Regions from separate parts of the Homo sapiens genome. Here all the other regions are linked to region 3. Evidence: fine-mapped expression QTL. A gene starts in region 3. Each other region holds a variant in brackets. All regions are shown on one strand. Distances are between the middles of the regions. Region 1 overlaps RHOA (ras homolog family member A). Region 2 overlaps SEMA3F (semaphorin 3F). Region 3 holds the start of DAG1 (dystroglycan 1).

The links. PIP is the estimated chance that this variant, and not a neighbour inherited with it, causes the effect.
Region 1: its variant is the best candidate, but not a certain one, in a credible set for the expression of DAG1 in blood mononuclear cells (TOPMed, PIP 0.74).
Region 2: its variant is the best candidate, but not a certain one, in a credible set for the expression of DAG1 in cerebellar hemisphere (GTEx, PIP 0.81).

What each region holds. Positions count from the first base shown.
Region 1 is chr3:49,362,707-49,370,505 of GRCh38, reverse strand. It overlaps RHOA (ras homolog family member A), which reads left to right. Exons shown (of 5, transcript NM_001664.4): 3 at 1,958-2,078. Among named protein-coding and RNA genes, the nearest start is that of GPX1, 8.3 kb to the right of the region's middle. The variant C/T (reference allele first, on the strand shown) is at 4,040.
Region 2 is chr3:50,161,680-50,169,478 of GRCh38, reverse strand. All of the region lies in intron 2 of SEMA3F (semaphorin 3F), which reads right to left. Among named protein-coding and RNA genes, the nearest start is that of SEMA3F-AS1, 9.5 kb to the right of the region's middle. RefSeq lists enhancers at 1,749-2,043, 1,975-2,589 and a silencer at 1,749-2,043. The variant C/T (reference allele first, on the strand shown) is at 4,167.
Region 3 is chr3:49,466,054-49,473,852 of GRCh38, reverse strand. DAG1 (dystroglycan 1) reads right to left here and starts at 3,586. Exons shown (of 3, transcript NM_004393.6): 1 at 3,420-3,586. It also overlaps the pseudogene RNA5SP130. RefSeq lists a silencer at 3,168-3,907.

The DNA of each region.
Region 1 (7,799 bases), 100 kb after region 3:
TCAAAATACAGATTTGTTTCCATGGTTTCCACATTATAGCAGAAAATTTACTTAGTCTTGTATCTTCCTCTCTCGCCTGTATGCCTGGTAGGATGTTATTTAAAATTTGATTTCTTCCCTCCTGTCTGCTTTCTTTCCTAGTAGAATGTTATTTATAATTAAACACTTTTATAAGCTACAGAGTTATTTTTGACTTGACATTTTGAATTATGCCACTTGGTTCAGTTCTAGTATCTGTTTTGTTTTTTTGTTTTTTTCCTAATTGAGTCAAGGTCTCACTGCCTAGGCTGCAGTGCAGTGGCACAATCTCTGCTTACTGCAACCTCCGCCTCCCGGGCTCAAGCAGTCCTCCCACCTCAGTCTCCCAAGTAGCTGGGACTACAGGCGTGCACCACCACAGTCAGCTAATTTTTTTTTTTTTTTAAATGGAGTTTCGCTCTTGTTGGCCAGGCTGGAGTGCAGTGGTGCAATCTCAGCTCATTGCAACCTCCACTCATTGCAACCTCCGCCTCCTGGGTTCAAGCGATTCTCCTGCCTCAGCCTCCTGAGTAGCTGGGATTACAGGCATGCTTCACCACGCCCAGCTAATTTTGTATTTTCAGTAGAGATGGGGTTTCTCCACATTTGTCAGGCTAGTCTCGAACTTCCGACTTCAGGTGATCCGCCCGCCTTGGCCTCCCAAAGTGCTGGGATTACAGGCGTGAGCCACCGCACCCAGCCCACACTCAGCTAAGTTTTATTTTATTTATTTTTTTTTTTTTTAGAGATGGAGGCTCGCTTTGTCGCCCATGCTGGAGTGCTGGAGTGCAGTGGCACGATCTTGGCTCACTGCAACCTTTGCCTCTCGAGTTCAAGCAATTCACCTGCCTTAGCCTCTCCAGTAGCTGGGACTACAGGCGCACGCTGCCGTGCCTGGCTAATTTCTTTCGTATTTTAGTAGGGACGGGGTTTCACCATGTTGCCCAGGCTGGTCTCGAACTCCTGAGCTCAGGCAGTCAGCCCGCCTCAGCCTCCCAAAGTGCTAGGATTACAGGCATGAGCCACCGCGCCTGGCCACACTCAGCTAATTTTTAAGGTGTTTTTGTAGAGGTGGGTTCTCAGATTTTCAATTTTGAGAAATTTCAACCTAAAATAATTTAAATATACTCTCATTTGAGCTTGATGCTCATAAAAGTGAATACTCGGCCGGGTGTGGTGGCTCATGCCTGTAATCCCAGCACTTTGGGAGGCCGAGGCAGGCGGATCACGAGGTCAGGAGATCAAGACCATCCTGGCTAACATGGTGAAACCCCGTCTCTACTAAAAGTACGAAAAATTAGCCAAGCGTGGTGGCGGGCGCCTGTAGTCCCAGCTGCTCAGGAGGCTGAGGCAGGAGAATGGCATGAACCCGGGGGCAGAGCTTGCAGTGAGCCAAGATCTTGCCACTGAACTCCAGTCTGAGCAACAGAGTAAGACTCCGTCTCAACAAAAAAAAAAAAAAAAAAAAAAAAAAAAAAAAAGGCCAGGCGCGGTGGGTCACGCCTGCAATCCCAACACTTTGGGAGGCCGAGGCGGACGGATCATGAGGTCAGGAGATCCAGACCATCCTGGCTAACACAGTGAAACCCCGTCTCTACTAAAAATACAAAAAATTAGCCGGGTGTGATGGCGGGCACCTGTAGTCCCAGCTACTTGGGAGGCCAAGGCAGGAGAATGGTGTGAACCCGGGAGACGGAGCTTGCAGGGAGCAGAGATCGCGCCACTGCACTCTAGCCTGGGCGACAGAGCAAGACTACATCTCAAAAAAAAAAAAAAAAAAGAAAAAAGAAAAAATGTAAATACTCCTGTGTTTTACTGTTTTAGACCGTCTGCCATTTCAATGGTCTGCCATTTCAATGTACTATGGTAAGTGTCACTTTTTCTAAAAGTGGGTGGGGGGATTAACCTTGCACTCTTGTGGTTGTTTTTCCCATTACAGGTAGAGTTGGCTTTGTGGGACACAGCTGGGCAGGAAGATTATGATCGCCTGAGGCCCCTCTCCTACCCAGATACCGATGTTATACTGATGTGTTTTTCCATCGACAGCCCTGATAGTTTAGGTGAGTGGCCCTGCACCCTGATATTTGTCACTGCCTGTGTAGCTAGTTGGCATCTGGTTTCTGGGCATCAAGTGGCTGAAAAGCAGACATGAACTTCAGAGAAGCAATCATCGTCAGTGGCCGGAGTCCTGGAGTTTGGGATTGTAGAGCGTGGGCCTTGGGTCCCTTTCAGCCTAGGTCTCCCATGGGTACTGTATTTAAAATGTATCCACCTAGGCAGGGCACGGTGCCTGACACCTATAATCCCTGCGCTTTGGGAGGTCCAGACGGGTGGATCACCTGAGGGTCAGGAGTTCAAGACCAGCCTGGCCAACATGGTGAAACCCCGTCTTTACTAAAAGTACAAAAAAATTAGCCAGGCATGGTGGTGCACGCCTGTAGTCCCAGGTACTTGGGAGGCTGAGGCAGGAGAATCGTTTGAACCTGGTAGGTGGAGATTGCAGTGAGCCGAGATTATGGCACTGCATTCCAGACTGAGCAACAGAGCAAGACTCTATCTCAAAAATAATAATTATTATTATTATTACTAAATAATATTAAATGTTATTTAAAAATCTAACTGCCTTGTAAACTAGATGAATTCCAGATACAAAGATGAGTAAACTAAGGCTGGTGCGGCGGCTGACACCTGTAATCCTAGCACTTTGGGAGGCCGAGGCTGGCAGATCACCTGAGGTCAGGAGTTTGAGACCAGCCTAGGCAACATGGTGAACCCCTTGTCTCTACTAAAATACAAAAATTAGCTGGGTGTGGTGGCGTGCACTTGTAATCCCAGCTATTCCAGGGGCTGAGGCAGGAGAATCACTTGAGCCTGGGAAGCAGAAGTTGCAGTGAGCCAAGATCATGCCACTGTACTGCAGACTCCATCTCCCAAAAAAAAAGATGAGCAAACTAGATGAGTTCCAAATGTAAAGCCATCTCTTTTGGGGAAAGACTTTCTTTTTTTTGGTTGCCCTGTCTTAGCCTTTTTCTGAAGTGTCTTAGCTGATAGAAGCTTGAATGTGATCATTTCATTAGCCTAAACACAGCCACATAATTCAGAAGTCAGTAAGTCAGTATTCTTTTTTTTTTTTTTTTTTTTTTTTGAGAGGGAGTCTTGCTCTGTCTCCCAGGCTGGATTGCAGCAGCTTGATCTCAGCTCACTGCAAGCTCTGCCTCCTGGGTTGATGCCATTCTCCTGCCTCAGCCACCCAAGTAGCTGGGACTACAGGTGGCCACCACCACGCCCGGCTAATTTTTTGTATTTTTTAGTAGAGATGGGATTTCACCACGTTAGCCAGGATGATCTTGATCTCCTGACCTCGTGATCCGCCTGCCTCGGCCTCCCAAAGTGCTGGGATTACAGGCGTGAGCCACTGCGCCTGGCCCAGAAGTCAGTATTCTTTAGAAAAAGACTGAAGAATGCTAACCTGACATTCTGTGAAACCAGGCTTGAAAAAACTTGCTTTAGGTTTGTGCTGAAGATGATGAGGTATCTATTAATAAACTTGTGCTGCAGCCCTCCCTGTCATGACAGGGCAGCAGGTGGGTCAAGGATGTTGTCGTCATTACCACAAACAGCCTTTGAGGGTCTGCTTGTGGCCTCGGGTTGCCTGGATAGTTAGTGTTAGAGTGATTGTGTTGTTATGGTTGTCCCTACCTTAATGATGATAACTGGGGTTGCTCCAAGATATTGAGCCACTTGTTTAAGGTCATGCTGGCCCAAGGAGCTGAGCTAAGATTGAGTCCTCTGTGCAGTATGTCCCAGGACAGAGAAAGAGCACGTATTCCATGCCGTTGGTTCACTTAGATCATTTTCAGCAGTTATGATTGATTGATTGATTTAGAGGCGGGGTCTCGCTCTGTTGCCCAGGCTGGAGTTGAGTGGCACAATCTTGGCTCACTGCAACCTCCGCCTTCCAGGTTCAAGCAAATCTCCTGTCTCAGCCTCCCAAGTAGCTTGGACTACAGGCATACGCCCC[C/T]ACGCCTGGGTGATTTTTGTATTTTTAGTAGAGACCGGGTTTCTCCGTGTTGGCCAGGCTTCTCTCAAACTTCTGACCTCTGGTGATCCACTCACCTTGGCCTCCCAAAGTGCTGGGATTACAGGTGTGAGCCACCACACCCAGCCTAGTTTTGGTTTTCAAACTAATATGACTTCCTTTTGTGAAGCTGCTGGAAGGCCCTGGAGGCTGGGCAGAGCTTTAGGCCACAGAGAAAATTTGAGCTAGTTGACACTCTCCTATCAGATACACACATAAATAACTTCACCTAGATCCTATTGGAATGAGAAGGACTGTGTGCCTTTGCCCTCGTTATCTAGTGTATAATTCTTGAGGGAAAAAACTGCCTCCAGAGCAAAACATTTTGTCTCTTCAGTCTCACTTTTTTCTTTTTGAGACAGGGTCTCGCTTTCTTGCCCAGTCTTGAGTGCAGTTGCAGATTCAGTTTACTGCTGCCTCGACCTCCTGGGCTCAAACAATCCTCCCATCTCAGTCCCCACCCAGTAGTTGGTACTACAGGCACACACTGCTGCGCTTGGTTAATTTTTATATTTTTTAGGCCGGGCATGGTGGCTCACGCCTGTAATCCCAGCACTTCGGGAGGCTGAGGTAGGCGGATCACCTGAGGTCAGGAGTTCGAGACCAGCCTGGCCAACATGGTGAAATCCTGTCGCTACTAAAAATACAAAACTTAGCCAAGTATGGTGGCATGTACCTGTAATCCCAGCTACTCAGGAGGCTGAGGCAGGAGAATTGCTTGAACCTGGGAGGCAGAGGTTGCAGTGAGCCGAGATCGCATCACTGCACTCCAGCCTAGGTGACAGAGTGAGACTCTTGTCTCAAAAAAAAAAAAAAAAAAAGTTTGAAAATTTATTCACCAAAAGTGGCGACAGTCAATTTATTCAAATTCTATGTACCTCAAACTCCAGGAAGGGGGTAGACTATTGGTATAATTTCACATATTCAGGAAATAACTACAGCACCTACTAACAGAACATCTATTCTAGGCCAGGCACTGTGGCTCACACCTGTAATCCCACCACTTTGGGAGGCCAAGGTGGGTGGATCCTGAGGTCAGGAGTTCAAGACCAGCCTGTCCAACATGGTGAATCCCTGTCTCTACTAAAAATACAAAAAAATCATCCGGGCGTGGTGGCGAGTGCCTGTAATCCCAGCTACTCGGGAGGCTGAGGCAGGAGAATTGCTTGAACCCGGGAGGCAGAGGTTGTAGTGAGCTGAGATTGCGCCACTGCGCTCCAGCCTGGGCGACAGAGCAAGAGTCCATCTAAAAAAAAAAAAAAAAAACTTCTGTTCTAGATGAGGGAAGACAGAATAGGCTCCCCTCAATGCCCCCAAAAAAGTAAATCAGAAAATAACAACAGTAAACCCAGTAACAGTAAATATTACAAATAACATTTGTAGAGGTGGGTCATGGTTGTATGCTGTTTTGTTTTATTTATTTTTATTTTTGTTTTTTTGAGACAGACTTTTGCTCTTGTCACGCAGGCTGGAGTGCAATGGTGCGATCTCAGCTCACTGCACTCCGCCTCCCGGGTTCAAGCACTTCTTCTGCCTCAGCCTCCCAAGTAGCTGGGATTACAGGCATGCACCACCATGCCTGACTAATTTTTGTATTATTAGTAGAGACAGGGTTTCAACATGTTGGCCAGACTGGTCTCAAACTCCTGATCCACCTGCCTCGGCCTCCCAAAGTGCTGAGATTACAGGCCTGATGAGCCACTGCACCTGGTCTATTTATTTTTATTTATTTATTTATTTATTTATTTTGAGACGGAGTCTCGCTCTGTCGCCCAGGCTGGAGGGCAGTGGCACGATCTTGGCTCACTGCAACCTCCACCTCCCTGGTTCAAGGAATTTCCCTGCCTCAGCCTCCCTAGTAGCTGGGATTACAGGTGTGCACCACCATGCCCAGTTAATTTTTTTGTTTTGTTTTGTTGTTTTTGAGACGGAGTTTCGCTCTTGTTGCCCAGGCTGGAGTGCAATGGCACGATCTCGGCTCACTGCAACTTCCGCCTCCCGGGTTCAAGCGATTCTCCAGCCTCAGCCTCTCAAGTAGCTGGGATTGCAGGCATGTGCCACCACGCCCAGCTAATTTTGTATTTTTAGTAGAGACGGGGTTTCTCCATGTTGGTTATGCTGGTCTCCCAACTCCCGACCTGAGGTGATCCACCCGCCCCGGCCTTCACAGTGCTGGGATTATAGGCATGAACCACTGCGCCTGGCAATCTTTTTGTATTTTTAATAGAGATGGGGTTTCACCATGTTGGCCAGACTGGTCTCGAACTCCTGACCTAACGCGATCCACCTGCCTCAGCCTCTCAAAGTTTTGGGATTATAGACGTGAGCCACTGCGCCCAGCCTATTTATTTGTTTTTAAGAGATGAAGTCTCACTTTGTCACCCTGGCTGGAGTGCAGTAGTAGCGTGATCATAGCTCACTGCTACCTTGAATCCTGGACTCCAGTGATCCTCCCACCTCAGCCTCTCAAGTAGGTGGGAATGCAGGCACATGTACCACTGTAAACTGCTAAGTTTTTGTATGTTTTTGTGGAGATGGGGTTTTTGACTTTTTTGATACAGAGTCTCACTCTGTTGCCCAGGCTGGAGTGAGTGTAGTATTGCGATCTCGACTCATCACAACCTCCACCTCCTGGGTTCAAGTGTTTCTTCTGCCTCAGCCTCCCAAGTAGCTGGGACTATAGGTGCACACCACTGCGCCCGGCTAATTTTAGTAATTTTAGTAGAGATGAGGTTTCGCCATGTTGGCCAGGCTGGTCTCGAACTCCTGACCTCTGGTGATCCACCCACCTAAGCCTCCCAAAGTGCTGGGATTACAGGCACGAGCCACCACGCTGTCTGGAGATGGGGTTTAGCCATGTTGCATAGGCTGTTCTTGAGCTCCTAGGCCCAAGCTGTCTACTTGCCTTAGCCTCTCAAAAGTGCTGGAATTACAAGTATGAGTCACCACGCCCAGCCTCTTTTGGTTATTTTCAAAAGTCACTTTTTTTTATTTGAGACGGAGTCTTGCTCTGTCGCCCAGGAGTGCAGTGGCGCGATCTCAGCTCATGGCAAGCTCTGCCTCCCGGGTTCACACCATTCTCCTGCCTCAGCCTCCTGAATAGCTGGGACTACAGGTGCCCACCACTACACCCGGCTAATTTTTTTTGTATTTTTAGTAGAGACGGGGTTTCACTGTGTTAGCCAGGATGGTCTCGATCTCCTGACCTCATGATCCGCCCACCTTGGCCTCCCAAAGTGCTGGGATTACAGGCATGAGCCACCGCTCCCGGCCAAAAGTCACTCTTCAGCCATTTGAAATACCAGTAAACCCCATAGGGTAGAAGTTATGCTGAGAGTTGATGAACAAGTTAGAAAAAGAACATGTGGACCCTGGGTCAGCTGCTGCCCTAGAATGGGGACCCCTTCTGTAAGCTATGTCAGAATCATCTACCAGCAGTGACAGATGTCCTGTAAAGTGCCTGCCTTTGTGGGGCAGGAAGTGCCCCCCGTGAAACTACCTTGTGTTGTGGATCTTTTGCTCCTCCAGAGCCCTTACTCGGGCCCCACCTACAGAGATGCTCAGCACCACTCTTGGCTGGACTGAGAAAAAGCTGTTGGTTCTCTGTTTAAAGGAAAGGGATTATATTTCCTTTTTATGGTTTTGAAACTAGTGAGTTTCATTAAATGTCTAGCATTTTTCTGAAGCCACAAAGAAAGTGTCT
Region 2 (7,799 bases), 700 kb before region 3:
CATCATCGGGAAGGAAGAGCCTTTTCTGGCATCAGACACCTCATTTCCGCAGCCATTCCTGGCCTCCAGGACTCTCTCATGGCCATCAAGCACTTGGGGTCCCAGCCCAAAGCGGCCTGGCACAGGTCCAGAGGCAGGACCTTCTCAAGGCACACGGGGCTGGGTCCTGGGGGCCCCCGGTCCCTCATATCTGGGAAGCAGCTGGTGATACCTTACTTTAAAGGTGCGGGCAGGTGAGGACAGGCACTGAGGAGGCGTGTCCACAGCCCTCACCCGAAGACCCCAAGTGGGCAGCCCCTACCCCTTGCTGCTGGTCTCCAGGACATCAGGTCTGCGTGCAGTGAGGTGTGGGCTGCCGCAAAAAGAGGAGTCTTGGAGCAGAGGTGGGCAGCCCGCCCCCTTGGTTATAGCCCCACAAAGCAGCAGGCCCTGACTGACAGCGTCACCTCCCCCAGCAGTGATGGGGACTGGGGATGATAGACAGATCCCTGCAGCCTAGCTCAGACCTCTGACCTCTAGTGAGCCAGTGCAGCCCTAATCCCTGAGCTGAAGAGAGATGGGACTGGGGGACAAGGGGAGGCACCAGCCTGGGTCTTTGTCAGTGTTTCACCCACCGGAAAGACAGACCTCCTGACCTTCTGAGGAGGGAAACTGAGGTAGCCAAGGCTATAGTAGCAGTGGCGGCAAGAGGCATGGCAGGGCCCAGGTGGTCCCTACCGGATACCCCCACAGGATCCAGGAAGGGGTGGCCCCGGCCCTTTTATCACTCCCCCAAAGCTGTGAGGAGCCCCAGAGGAAGGCCTGGGGACTGGGCTGGCCCCCTGGCTCTCAGCCTAATCCTCTTTTAATGAGCGGCCAGCCGGAAGGCCTCAGCCCATGGCCACAGACCTACAACCCCGGGAACCCCAGCCAAGCTAAGCGGGGGGGCAGGGAGGCCCAGATGCCTTTGTACGTACCTTCCTCCTGCTTGGCACACCCACTTACACCCCAACGCCACCCTGATCAGGCCAACCCAGGGCCCAGTATGTGCAGAGACACACCTGAGTGACGCCTGCCTTGGGCTCCCACAGACCCACTCTTGGGCACTTACCATTTGTTCAAGCCCAGGTCCCACATGGGGCTGGGCAGGGGAGACTATCACTGCTGATCTGGGGTAGCTCCTCCAGTTCCCCCTTTTCCCCCTATGCTCTGGATGGGAACCCTAGAAGCCAGACCCCAGCTGCACCCTCCCTGGGGAGAGGTTCCAGGTTCCTCTGACCCTAAGCCCCTGGAGATCTGCCCCCGCATAGCATCTCTAGCCAGGCCTTCCAGATTGGAGACCCAGAGGGCCTCCCTAGGAGCCATCCACACCAACCCCCGCTTCCCCCCAGGTAGGTGAGCCAGGTTGGTGCCAACAAAACCAATTACAGCCACTCTCACCCAATTAGCAACTAATTATGGTCTAGTAGTCCATTCAACATAATTAACATGTAAATGACTCCGCGTGTTTTTATTCAATAACCGCTCTGATTGAATTTAATTTAAATGTCTGAACTGGGGACCCAGTTACCGTATTTCACCACCTAGAGCTGCCACTCTAGGAAATGTGGTGGGAAATGTTGGCTCCTCCAGAGCAGAGGAACCGAAGGCCAGAGGCCAAGGGGACAGGCACCACTGGCTCTGGTAAGGTGGAGATGGTTATGGTCTCTGTATCCCTGACACATCTATCCCAGGGGTGCAGGGAATTGGTGAGGTCAGAAGAGCCCCAGTGGGACCCTCAAGATGGGAAATCCCCTGCAACGAGGGGCCCCTTTGCAAGGGCTACTGTAAACATCCCAGCTGTTCAGTAAACACCGTACAGGGGTAAAGAGCCCAGCTGGGCCAAAACGCCACTGTACACTTCCCTCCCATTTCAGTGACTAAAGGCTGGGGGCAGGGGGCAGGGGGCTGGGGCCAGCAGGTCCAGGCATGCTGTTCCCACGCCCGTTCCGCCCCAGTGCTCACCTACTCCGCCCAGGACAGGATAGGCTGAGGGCACAGCTCAGCCTCAAACCAGGAAAAGCCAGAAGTGACGGAGCAGCAGGATCACTCCCTGACTCGCCAGCCGGGAACCAGGGGATCCATGCCTCATCCCCGAAGGACACCCAATGACTTCGGACCTTCTGTCCCAGCAGATGGGGTCTCTCCGGCCTCGGCACCTCCACTGACCCCTGCCTTCCCCATGGTCCATGCACCTGACCATCCTAGGCCTGGGCTGGTAGTTCCAGAGGCCTAGACGTCCCACTTGGAACTTAACAGTGTGCATGGTTGCCTGTGAGAACACATTTGGGCATTCACCAGCTGGGCAAGTCAGGGCTCCGGCTCAGCTTTGGAAGGACACTGTGGTCAAGAGACCTGGTCCTGAGCAGGGGGTGGGAGAAGATGACCAGACAAGCAGATCACACAGGAATGTGCCCCAAGAAGTATGAAGGGGATGGAAAGAGGGGATTGTTCTGAAGGGGAGGGCTGCACTGATTCATTTCTCAGGTGGGGAGAGTGAAAAGGCCATTCAGTGAGTGCCTCCAGTTTCAGAGGCCCCCGGGGGACCCACCTCCTCCTCCCACATTCCAGACCTGGCCCGGAAACCCCTCACTCCTTCCTCCACCACCTCCTCCTCCCCATGACTGCAAAAGACAACAAACTCTCCATGGCTCATTTACTCTGATAAATCACCCAGACAGACAGGCCAAGATGGGACCAACAGGCTGGTGGGTGTCAAAACCCTCCCCCTCCCCTGGGCCCAGCCCCCATCTCTGCGGCCTTCCTCGGATTCCTGCGGTCCCTGCAGCCCCTTCACAACACCCACCCAGAGATTCCCGGGATGTTCCAGACAGTCTTAGCCCCTCCCCAACATTCTGATGGAGAAACCGAGGCACAGGGCAGACAGGTGCATGCTTGGGGTCAGCCTTGGAGGATGCAGTGAGGCTGGGTTAGGACCTCAGCAGGACTCAGCAGGTAGCCAGTCAAGGGCAGGCAGTGAGCACTCCGCACAGGCCCCAGGCCCAGCCAGGAAGGCGCTGATAAAAATGGCAATACAGGCAGCCCTGGGAGAGGCCCCCTGGAGTGCTAGCCACTCAGCCTTGGAGCTGTAGGAGCCCAAAGGGCTCCCAAATTCTAGCCGCTCTGCCAATTGTAGTGTATGACCCTTAGAAGGCAACCGTGCTGGCTGAACAGCAGACACACGAGGCAGTGGACTCTGGCCGGGGGAAATGAGGGCATCAGCACCGAGCCCCAAGTGGGAAGGAACAAGGCTCTTGGCTGGGTACAGAGACGTCCGAGGAAAGAGCATGTCCGGGTAGGAAGCCAAGAGGGGTGGCAAAGGGAGGGGTGGAGGCAAGGGGGAGTAGGGGGAGGAAGGAAGGAAGAAGAGTGGGGGAAGGGGGATCCGGAGCTGAGGCTTCCTGATCCCTGGAGGGGCCGGTTGCTTTGGGTCTGTCTTTGCCCTGCAGAGATGCACCAGATAGCCAGTGCTCCCCTCGGCCCAGTGAGAGTGCCAGAAGTCAGCCCAGCCCGTCAGCCCGATGAGCCCCACTCCCTCCCCAACAGGCTAGCCCCCCAATCCTAGGCCAGCAGCCACTGCCCAGACCCCATTCGTTGCTGGGTCAGGACCAGTGGTCAGGGACTGGAGCCCAGGAGGCCTCCACCCTCTCCCTGGGGCTGCCCAGCAGGCTGGGTGGGGGGCTGTAGGCCTGCCAAGCTCTGGCACCCACGTGAGCTAGGCTTTGGATTCAGACCATAGCCTTCTGGCATCCAGGCCTCTGGCAAAGGCCCTCTTGCTATTTCTAAGAAAAATGCAGCAGGAATCCTCTCTGCTTCTCCAAAGCTCCCAGGGCTTCTTGAGGCGGGGCTCAGATTCCCAGGATAGCACCAGGCCAAGCCAGGCAAACATGCTTTCTGCCCAGCCCTGCAGATGCCTGAGTGAGCAGCCCAGGTCTGGTCACCCCTAGGACACACGGCAGGAGCTGGAGCAGCATTCACAGAAGGAGTTATTGCAGCCAACTGTGCGTCCCAACCAGGCCTTGGAGCCAGTCTCTAGGGAGCTACTTCCAAGGCATCACTCCCGCCAAATGCATCCGTATCACTGGAATTTTTCCATAATACATATTTAGTACCTCTGCCATGAGGAAAAAGAGCTTAAAAACCAGAAA[C/T]AGAAAGTAGAACTCTACATCCTTGTCCCAAAAGCAAGACTGCATCTAGCATCTGTCCTCTTCCCCAGGTGCTGCACCACATGCACCCTCCCTGTGCTCCAGCTCTTCCCTCCCCTACAACCTCCCCTCCCCTGCTCAAGATGCAGCCTCCTCCATGAAGCCTGCCCAGATACCCATGGTAGGAATTTTCCTCCTCCTGACCCTACTCCACCCACCCCACAGGACTCAGGGTCCTTCCTGGAGTCCTTTCCAAATACCATCTCCCTTACCAAAAGTTAGAATTCTGGAGGAAGGGGTGAGGCAGTCTGGGACTCCTTGGGGCATGCCCCTGGACCTGCCCTCACCTGCACACCAGCCTCAGGATCGCTCCTGGTGACTGAGATTTCTTCCACAGTGACCATACTCACACAGTTAATCCTCCTGACAACACAACGAGGCCAGTATTGTTCTTACTCCCATTTTCCAGAAAAGGCAGTGGGAACACAGAATGATGTTCACCAAGCAAGATCCACCCATGGCCAGGATGCAAGCAAGACAGTCTGAGCCCTCATGATGCTGCTTCCACAGGGCCACTGCCATTCCCACCTTACACAGGAGAAACCAGGGCTCAGAGAGGCTAAGCCACTTGGCTGAACTCACACAGCTAACACTGGTAGAACTGGGTTTTGCCTTTGGGACCAGCTAGCTCAGCCACCACCATCACCACTTCTGCATTACACCAAATTTAAGCACCCCACTCTCCTGAGTGAGGAGATGGAGGTCTCCCAGGAGTCAAGGACCAGGTACCCATGGCCCTAAAGCCACCTTCTGAGCTATTACCACCTCTGGAGGAGTCAAGGGGCCGGAGGTGCATACACACAGGTGCAGACAGCCAAGAGCCCACTCTGAGGCTCACTGTCTCCCAAGCTGCAGGGTGAAAGATGCCTTTATGGGCTGGTGAGATTTTTATCTTGGCGGTTTCTCTTTAAATTCTTTACGATTACGAAGCAGTGGGGGCTGCCAAGGAACATGATTTACTCCTTGAGCATGCACCAGCTCCTCACTTAGTGCCAAGGGAAGCTGGAGCCAGGGAAGGAGGGGCGGGCATCATGCCAGGGAACCAGAGACAAGGCCTGTGCTGCGGAGGCCCAGACAGTGGAGGTCCCATCTGAAGCTCCACTTGACCTGGAAGGCCACAGCTGAAAGCCCCAGCCCCTGGCCTGGCTGACCCAGGCTGGGCGTCAGGCAGGTTCTCCAGCAAGCACAAGGACCCTGTCTCCATTCTCTCCAAAGACCAATTCCTAGCCAGTTGGGGGATGTGCAGCTTCCAGGACCTCCCAACTCCAAAGCGGCCACTTCCAAGTCTCTCAGGAGTAAGGCAGCTCCCATTTCCAGAAAACTGAAACTCCAGATCTGGCCTCAAGGGATCTGGGCTCAAGTTCATGCTTTGGGTCTTCCTTCCTCCCTCATCCTGGCGTATCCTGGAACACCTACCCTCCCTGGCTTGTGAGCTCCAACCCCCACTGTAGCTGCCAGAGCCACCTGACCCTTGCCCAGCTCCCTGGTGCCACACTGGCCTCAAAGCTCCTGGGCCTCCTCCCCCTCCTCCCCCACCAAAGCCCCATGCCTTGCTCTGGCTGGCCAAGGAGCCCCTGGGGGGCAAGAGCATGTCCTCTAGCTCTCCAGCCCCACCCCTACTCCTGCACCAGGCCTGAGGGCTAAGGCCCCATCAAGGCTTGCTAGAGGCACCTCAACTCACATCAACTCCTGAGGGGAAGTCAACGGGCTGTGACCCTTCCTAACCTCTAACCTCATCATCTCCAAACCTGGCAACCTTGGTCCTCTGATGCCACATGCAAATGATGTGAGCGGTGGCACTGTTCTGGGCTATTGGCCTGGAGGGCTCAAACTCCAGGCTGCTCTGGAACAGGAGCCCTTTCCTCTCTTAGGCCCTGATGTTCCCATCTCTGACATGAGAGGCCTTCCTAGGGACCCTGCTCAGTGGAAGGGCCAGAGTGATGGAGGGCCGGATTTATAGCCTGGAAATAAGCAAACCCCAATTCCGTTGCTTCGGCAGACAGAGGGCATGGGGAGCCTGCCCAGTGCGACCCCAGCCCTTTCTTTGGGAAACGAGGCTAGGAAGCCTAAACCAGCACTGCAGAATGCTGGAATCTTCCTTGTTCCTAGCTCATGTGAAGGGTCTGTGCCTCCAGCACCACCACCATCCCTGCCCTCCACTCTCAGTCCTGGGACAGCCTCAGGCATCAGGCGGATGCAGGCTCCATCTCAGTCCTGCTCCTGAGTGACCTGGGAAGCCGCTCAGCCCCCGTAAGCCTCCTTCCTCACAGGAAACCTAGGCAGACCCTCTTTAGGTCTTGGAGGGACCATTGCTTGGTTATCCTCATGGGCTCCTACTACTATTTCGATTATGTTCATCTTTCCTGACCTCCCCTGGCAGGGTGACCTTCTGCTCCCTCTCCCTACTTCTGCCTCAGCTTCCCTAGCAGCACAACTGTCTCATGTCATCACAGGGTCCTTCTACCCCACCAAACATCTCTTGGCCCCAATCCCTGGCCAAACCCAGCCCAGGCAGCAGCAGTGTGTCGTGGGGTAGCTTCCTGGGAAAAAGTAAACACTCCCCAGGCTGAACAAAGGGCCTGGCAGGGCCCTCACACCTCCCTGCTGCTGCCACGGAGGGAGGTGGTGCCCCAGAGCCTGGGTCATCTCAAGGTGGGGGAAGGAAGAGCTTTTTCTCTGAGATTTGGCAGTGATTCTGCAGTGTAGGGGACTCCAGGCCCAGGCATGGATGGGTGAAGGAAGGAGGGTCTGTCCAGGCTTCCAGCCCAGGCTCCACTCTCTCAAGAGCAAGGAATGAACAAACACCTCACCTGCTCCTGGAAATCTCCATTTGACCCTCACTTCTGCCTGATTTTGGCTGTGCTGCTGAAGCCCAGAAGCTGGGCCATAGGAGCCCCCCTAATCTGAGGGAACCCTGGGCTGCTTGACCCTCACACCCTTCTGGCTCTAGACCTGGCTGGGGTGCCCAGGCGGATGGGCGGGCAGCAAACCCAAGCCTGGCCCAGTTCCTGCCTTTGTTCCTTTATCTACCCTGGGCAGTGTGGCCCCTTATGCCAGCACCTCTAGCTTGGAGGGTCCAGCCCTACCCAGGCAGGAACCGGCACCTCCCCACTACAGCAGGACCCAGGGCAGGGCAGGGCAGGGAGTGCCCAGCCTGAGCCCCTGAGGCCTGGGGTGTCAACTGCTGTGTCCATCCAAGGCACAGATGAAAAAACTATGACATGGAGCCACAGTGACCAGCAGTGCTTCTGAGAGTAACCTTCTCTGTGCCACCCACGTGTACTCTGGGAGGAAGATGGTGGGAGCCCAGTTTCTTGAAGTGTTGGTCTCCATTCTCACTCCACACACACTTGGTGGGCGCCTGCTCCTCACTGAGGGCCACTTCATGTGTGCATAACCAGGCTGAGACCACCCAGTGTAGGGGGATACACAGGGCCTGGTACACAGCAGGTGCTGGGCTCCCAGATGGCCCTGACCAACTGGATATCCATTGCTTTTTCCACCAGCTTGACTGTGAGCACCCTATCTTGTTCACCACAGAGTCCCCAGCACTCAGCACGGGGCCTGTCATACAGT
Region 3 (7,799 bases):
CAACACTTTGGGAGGCTGACGCGGGCGGATCACCTGAGATCAAGAGTTCAAGATTAGGCTGGCCAACATGGTGAAACCCCATCTCTACTAAAAATGCAAAAAATTAGCCTGGCGTGGTGGCAAGTGCCTGTGATCCCAGCTACTCGGGAGGCTGAGGCAGGAGAATTGCTTGAACCTGGGAGGCGGAGGTTGCAGTGAGCCAAGATCACGCCACTTTATTCCAGCCTAGGTGATGTGACAGAGCAAGACTCCGTCTCAAAAAAAAAAAAGGAAGAAAAGAAATGAAATATGCTCTCAACTGCCTCCACAAGGATGAACACACATTGTCTCTCACGGGTTAAGATGCCTGCTGTGCGCAAGAGGAAATGCAGTACCCCAGGTTCAAGTAGGAGATAAAGTTTTGTGTTTTTTTTGTGTTTTTTTTTTGTTTTGAGACGGAGTCTCGCTCTGTCGCCCAGGCCGGACTGCAGTGGCGCTATCTCAGCTCACTGCAAGCTCCGCCTCCCGGGTTCACGCCATTCTCCTGCCTCAGCCTCCAGGAGAATGAGTAGCTGGGACTACAGGCGCCCGCCACCCCACCTGGCTAATTTTTTGTATTTTTAGTAGAGACAGGGTTTCACCGTGTTAGCCAGGATGGTCTTGATCTCCTGACCTCGTGATCCACCCGCCTCAGCCTCCCAAAGTGCTGGGATTACGGGCGTGAGCCACCGCGCCTGGCCAGTTGTTTTGTTTTATTTTTTATTTTTTTTGAGACCGAGTTTTGCTCTTGTCACCCAGGCTTTCAGCTCACTGCAACCTCCGCCTCCCGGGTTCAAGCGATTCTCCTGTCTCAGCCTCCCGAGTAGCTGCGATTAAAGGCGCCCGCCACCATGCCTGGCTAATTTTTGTATTTTTTAGTAGAGACGGGGTTTCACCATGTCGGCCAGGCTGGTCCTGAACTCCTGACCTCAGGTAATCCACCTGCCTCAGAATCCCAAAGTGCTGGGATTACAGGCGTGAGCCACCACGCCCTGCCTGGAGATAAAGTTGTTTTTTGTTTTGTTTTTGAGACGGAGTCTCGATCTGTGGCCCAGGCTGGAGTGCAGTGGCTCTATCTCAACTCACTGCAAGCTCCGCCTCCCGGGTTCACGCCATTCTCCTGCCTCAGCCTCCTGAGTAGCTGGGACTACAGGTGCCCACCACCACGCCCGGCTAATTTTTTGTATTTTTAGTAGAGAGGGGGTTTCACCGTGTTAGCCAGGATGATCTCGATCTCCTGACCTCGTGATCCGCCCGCCTCGGCCTCCCAAACTGCTGGGATTACAGGTGGGAGCCACCATGCCCGGCGATAAAGTTTTTAATAATCAAATGCCAGGCCTCCTTTCCTATGCATCGACGGCAGTCTAAGTGGTCCCTAAGTGGTCCCTCCAAATCCCACCATCCTCAACACTAACCAGACACAAGCAACTCTGTAGGTCACTATACCAGGTAGTCAACAAGGAATTTAAATCCTTGGTTATGCTTGGTCTTCTGGCCCATGCATTCCAGAATGTAGCTCCTCCCCCATCATGGCAGGACATCCCCTCTGTACTACCTTTTCAGTCTCTCTTTTCTGATGGCTCCTTCTCCCTCCCCACCTCTCCTCTGTTAGCTGACTTAACTGCCAGAGGTCCTGACCCCCTCCCTCTTCCTGCCACTCCACCAGCAATATCTTTCTAAACACAGGTCTGGGTCACACCACTCTACTGATTAAAAGGCTCCCCAGACTCCTGCACCCCGCATACAAAGTTGGAACTCCTGAGCACAAGGCAGGCCCAGAGCTCGCACCTGCCAAGCTGGAGGACTCCCAAGCACTATTTTAGGTGCTCATGTACATGTGGTTCCCTGTGTCCAGGCCTTGATGTCCCCCACTAATTCCTGCTGGCCCTGAAAACCACAGCTCAGGAATTCCCTCTCTCCTCAGGCTACTATGTGAGCACGCTTAGCGGGCAGACACTATTAATCATGGGTTCCCTGGTCCCCACTGCCCCCTAAACTGAATTCCTTAAGGGCAGAAGCAGACTCTTTTACATGGGTCCCTAGGATCTACCACAGAATTTGGCAGGTAGTGAATCAAAATATTTGTTCAAATGAATAAATGCATTTTGCAAAATCAATTTTTAAGAACAGTGAGGATTTGCACTGTGCCTCTTTTAACAAAAGCACATGTCAGCACAAGCTTTTATATCCCATAGGGTCTTCACATGATGGATCCAACTCCCTACTGAAATCTGATTTCTCCAAAATACAGGACACAGGCCATGAGCTCTTCTTCCTTAGTTCACAGCAAAAAAAACCCACAAAAGTTCAACTAAACTTCTCCATACTCAAACTATGGATTTTTATGCCTCCAAAATGTAGTACGGTTGAATTCTTTTTTAGAACAGGAACATTCCAAAATAATGTCTCTGAACTTAACTAAGCATAGAACCTGATAAAACTGCAATACCCCATCTACACCAGACTTTGCAAAACACCTGAAAGCACATCCAGCTCTTTATCTGGAATTATGTCCTATAAACACCACCTTCCCTTCACGGAGTCTGGCTTCTATGCCAGGAGTCACTTCTACTCGCTTATTTAGGGAAGCAGCAGGCTAGAATCTTAAGTTAGACTCTGCGCTATGAAGGTGCTGTCCCAGGCTCTTGCCTCAACCAGTCAAAACTTCATCGTCACCATTAAAACTAATTCTGAAGCAACTCGATTTACAAAAATAAGAACTTTTCAAGTTATAGAGATTAAAGGATGCATTTTAAGTTACCAGTTGAGTTTGTAGGAAACTAACTTAGAATTTATGGCAAAAAGATTCCAAGCCGAGACGACATTTTCTGTGGAGACACTATCCAAATACACTCGCAGGTGAACCAGGTCTGCCAAATACAAAGTGAAAAGGTAGTAAGTAAACAAGCTTCCAAAGGAGCTCAAGTAAGGATGACGGAACCCACCAAGGCTCTGAGCAGCTCTGACAGAGCAGTGGCGGCAGCGGTGCCCTTCCCTGCCTCTAGCGGGGCTCGACTCCCCACAGTCGGAATCCGGCCCAACTGGGCCACAACCCCTATTGGAAGCCAGGGAGGCGGCCCGCAGGCGGCTCACGACCGCGGCCAAGGCGCAGGCTCCACGTTCCCGGGAGCGCGGGCCGAGCTAAGGCCTGGCCCATCGCCGCGGCGCGCGGCCCGGGCCTTGCAGCCGAACGCTCCGAGCCTTTGCCTGCGGGACCCAGAGCAAAGGGGCGGCTCCGCCCGGGCGGCACCGCCTCCTCACCCACAAGGACGTCCGCGGCCGTGTCCCCGCCCCGGGCCGAACAGCGAGCAGCAGCAGGTGTTCCGCGGAAGGCTCAGCCGGCAGCAGGGATGGGGGCCCAAGCAGCCAGGCACAGCGGATAGGGCGGGCGGTGCACTCACCCAGCGCCGGCGGGAGGACCGCGGCAGGTGTTCGCTCCTCCTGGCCCCAGGACGCCGCCACCGCCGCTCCCCGGGGATTCGGCGCGAAGCTGCCGCCGCCGCCACCGCCAAGCCTAAGAGGCGCGAGCGCCGCGCCGCAGCCTTCGCGCGAGCACGTACCGGGCGGTGAGAGGGCGCTGAGCGCAAGGGCGGGGCGCGCGGCCGGAGCCTAGCAACCGCCTGACACGCGAGTGTTGCAGCCAATCCAGCGGCCAGCTCCGCGCGGCGCCGACTGGCTGTCCGCGCGCCGCCGGCTTCTGCCTGCGTCGGCCGCTCCGCAGCGCGCCGCACCCGCGCGCAAGCCCCGCCCCGGCCAGCACCTCTCTGCTCATTGGCTAGCCACTCCCCCGCCCTAAAAGTCACGCCCCATTATGGAAGCCTCGCCCCCACGGCCAGGGAAGTCCGTCCCGGGACACACCCCGGCGGTCGGTCCCGGTCACTCGGAGCCTTCAGAACCAGTAGTGTGGGGGAGGGGCTCCCCGCCCAACTTCAGGCCTTTGGGCCTCTAAGACTAATCAAGGGACAGTCAGGACTGCGAACTGGCCCAGCAACTGGCCACCCGTCGACTGCGTTCAGCCCTCCTTATTTCCTTCGAATGCAAATCAAGGGGTATTTCTAAGCCATGAGAACAATCAGGAAGCGTTCTCTCAATTGCAAAGGATGAAAGCCTTGCTGCCCGGCCCTTACACGGATGGGAGACTGAGGCCAGGGACAGGAGGAGCGGGAAGCTAGCTCATCTCCTAGAGCCTCGCCCACAGCAGGCTGGGGAGTCGGAAAGCGCCTCAGGCCTAACCCTCGTCCCCTCCCCCTGCCTGGAACACTGGAATCCGACGCCTGCTCTCCTGCCCAAAATAGCTCTAACTCGCAGGCGCTGGTCACTCACTCCTAGTGGCCTGCATTCTTTTGGTGGGGGAAGAAATAAGAGAGGGGGGTTGCTGCCTGGAACATTCAAGGGGAGGGTCCTAAGGTAGCTCTAGCTCTCCCCAGGACTTAACCTGCAGCCCCCCACCCCAAAAGCCCCAGACTTCACAGTTACTGAAACTGACAGTTACCGGATGGGTCTGGGAATGAGACCCGTGGTGGGCTCTGCTTCTCATCCCCACACCATGCGCAGGATGGGTCCATTCCCTCCTTGGCCTGTGGCCAGGCTGGAATTCCAGGCCTGCACTCTTGACAGCAAGCACATTCTGAACACAGAACTGGCTGCCACCAGCCATGGTTTCCTCCCTGGATCCCGGAGAGCTCTGGGGCTCCCTGGCTTTCCCTCCCTCCTCAGGAGCGTCTGGGAGATGCAAGTTGCAGAGATAAGAAAGGAATGCCCCATCTCCCAAAAACATACCTTTTTGCAATTATCTATACTTCAGTGTCTCGGCTCCAAACCTCATTCACAGAGACAAGAAAAGGAAGGGGCTAGGTGCTGTGCTCCCGCCTGTAGTCCCAGCACTATGGGAGGCCGAGGCAGGTGGATGGATAGCTTGAGCTCAGGAGTTCAAGACCAGCCTGGGCAACGTGTCGAAACCCCGCCTCTGCAAAAAAAGTACCAAAAAAAAAAAATTTTGACCAGCCGCGGTGGCTCACACCTGTAATCCCAGCACTTTGGGAGGCCAAGGCGGGTGGATCACCTGAGGTCAGGAGTTTGAGACCAGCCTGACCAACAACGTGAAACCCCGTCTCTACTAAAAATACAAAAAATAGCCGGGCATGGTGGCAGACGCCTGTAGTCCCAGCTACTCGGGAGGCGGAGACAGGAGAATCACGTGAACCCAGGAGGCAGACGTTGCAGTGAGCCGAGATCATGCCACTGAACTCCACCTGGGCAACAGAACAAGACTCTGTCTCAAAAAATAAAAATTAAAAATAAAATTGGCCAAGCGGGGTGGCACATGACCTGTGCTCCCAGCTACCTGGGAGGCTGAGGTGGGAGGATTGCTTGAGACCAGGAGGTTGAGACTGCAGTGAGCGGGTGTTCACACCACTGCACTCCAGCCTATGCAATAGAGGGAGACCCTGTCTCCAAAAAAAAAAAAGGGGGGGCTAACCATGCAGAAAATTATTTATTTGGGTTTCTAAGCAAAATATATTCTATTCTCTCATTCACTCCTTTGGCTCTGAGAGTGCACCACCTACCCCACCACCGTGCACTGCTTTGCAGCCATACGTTCTGCTGCATATTTTAGTGTCTGACTATATAGTTTTACATCTCAGGTCTGTAATTCCAGCACTTTGGGAGGCCAAGGAGGGTGGATCTCTTGAGCCCATGATTCAAGACCAGTCTGGACTATATAGTGAGACAGCATCTCTACAAAAAAATTTTTTAAATTAGCCAGGTGCTTGAGCTTTGGAGATTAAAACTGCAGTGAGCCATGATCACACCACTGCACTCCAGCCTGGGCAACAGAATGAGACCCTGTCTCAAAAAAAAAGAAAGAGGCCAGGCGTGGTGGCTCACGCCTGTAATCCCAGCACTTCGGGAGGCCAAGGCGGGTGGATCACGAGGTCAGAAGATCGAGACAATCCTGGCTAACACGGTGAAACCCCGTCTCTACTAAAAATACAAAAAAAATTAGCCGGGCGTTGTGGCATATGCCTGTAATCCTAGCTACTCGGGAGGCTGAGACAGGAGAATTGCTTGAACCAGGGAGGCGGAGGTTGCAGTGAGCCGAGTTCACACCACTGCACTCCAGCCTGGGCAACAAGAGGGAAACTCTGTCCCCCCTCAAAAAAAAAAACGGCAGGAGGCTTGGCTGACCAGACCTGAACAAGCCACTTAGGAGGCCTAACCACCTCCCACCAGAACCCAACCAGCCCCCACTGGAGTCCATACCAAAGATGACACAGAAATAGCTGTCTTCATGGTCCCCTAGACTGGCTAGGGGCTGTAAAGTTAAGGCCTTGTTACTCTCTTTAGTTCTAAGAGTCAAAGCCTTTACCCTCAGTGGGAACTGCACAGCCTACTCTAGAGTTCAGCACAAGGTCCCCAGTAACTCACCTTCCAAACCCCAGCAGAGCCTAGGCCACTCCAGGCCAGGTTTGGTGCTCACAACCAGTTGGAGGGCAGAACCAAAAATGAGGTCTGGGCCAGGCTCAGTGGCTCATACCTGTAATCCCAGCACTTTGGGAAACTAAGGCAGCTGGATCGTTTGAGCTCAGAAGTTCAAGAGCTGTCCATGGCCATACCACCCTGAATGCACCCAAGCTCGTCTGATCTCAGAAGCTAAGCAGGGTTGGGCCTGGTTAGTACTTGGATGGGAGAAGTTTGAGACCAGACTGCGCAACATGTTAGCAAGACCCCCATCTCTACAAAAAATTAAAAAATTAGCAAGGCATATGGCACCCACCTGTGGTCCCAGATACTCAGGAGGCTGAGGTGGATCACTTGAGCCTGGGAGGTGGAGGTTGCAGTGAGCTGCAGTCATGCCACTGCACTCCAGCCAGGTGACAGAGTAAGATCCTGACTCAAGAAAAAATAAAAAGGCTGGGCGCGGTGGCTCATGCCTGTAATCCCAACACTTTGGGAGGCTGAGGTGGGTGGATCACGAGGTCAGGAGTTCCAGACCAGCCTGACCAATATGGTGAAATCCCTTCTCTACTAAAAATATGAAAATTAGCCAGGCGTGGTGGTACACACCTGTAATCCCAGCTACTCAGGAGGCTGAAGCAGGAGAATCACTTGAACCCAGGAGGCAGAGGTTGCAGTGAGCTAAGATTGCACCACTTCGCTCCAGCCTGGGCAACAGAGTGAGACTCCGTCTCAAAAAAAAAAAAAGAAAGAAAGAAAGAAAAAAAAAAATGAGGCCTGGGTTACTCCCAGGAGCAGCTACTCAAAGGACCCATGTGGTATGGAATGGGGAGGACTGATCAAGAGGCAAAGAATGAGGATCTTCGGGCCTGTCAGTCCCCAACTCTCTTGGGCCTTCAGCCCCCAGTGTTTCATCCACATAGACCCTCAACCTGAGGATTCAGGAAGATTATCTGATTAAGGTTTGTCTCCTCCACTGAAGTATGAGCCCTTGATGCTAGAGACCAACTTGCTTGGCCCCACATAGCAACCACCACCTAACAGCAAGTGGCAGATAGCAGAGGCTCAATTTTGGTTTTGGAAGGAAGGAAGCAAGTTGCTACTCCAAAGGTCCATGCCCTGTGCAAAGCCCAAGGCAAATGTCCTAGTGTTTGCTTGGGGCTCATGTGACTTAAACTAAGACCTTGATTTTAGTTAGAACAAATCCAAGGGACATTACGTGGACCAAACTTTCTGATGGTCCTAGGATTCCAGGGCTTTTTACCCTGGCGTGTTTCTGAGAAGCTGAGGGTCAAGGACCAGTGCTCATCCTCAGATTCTTC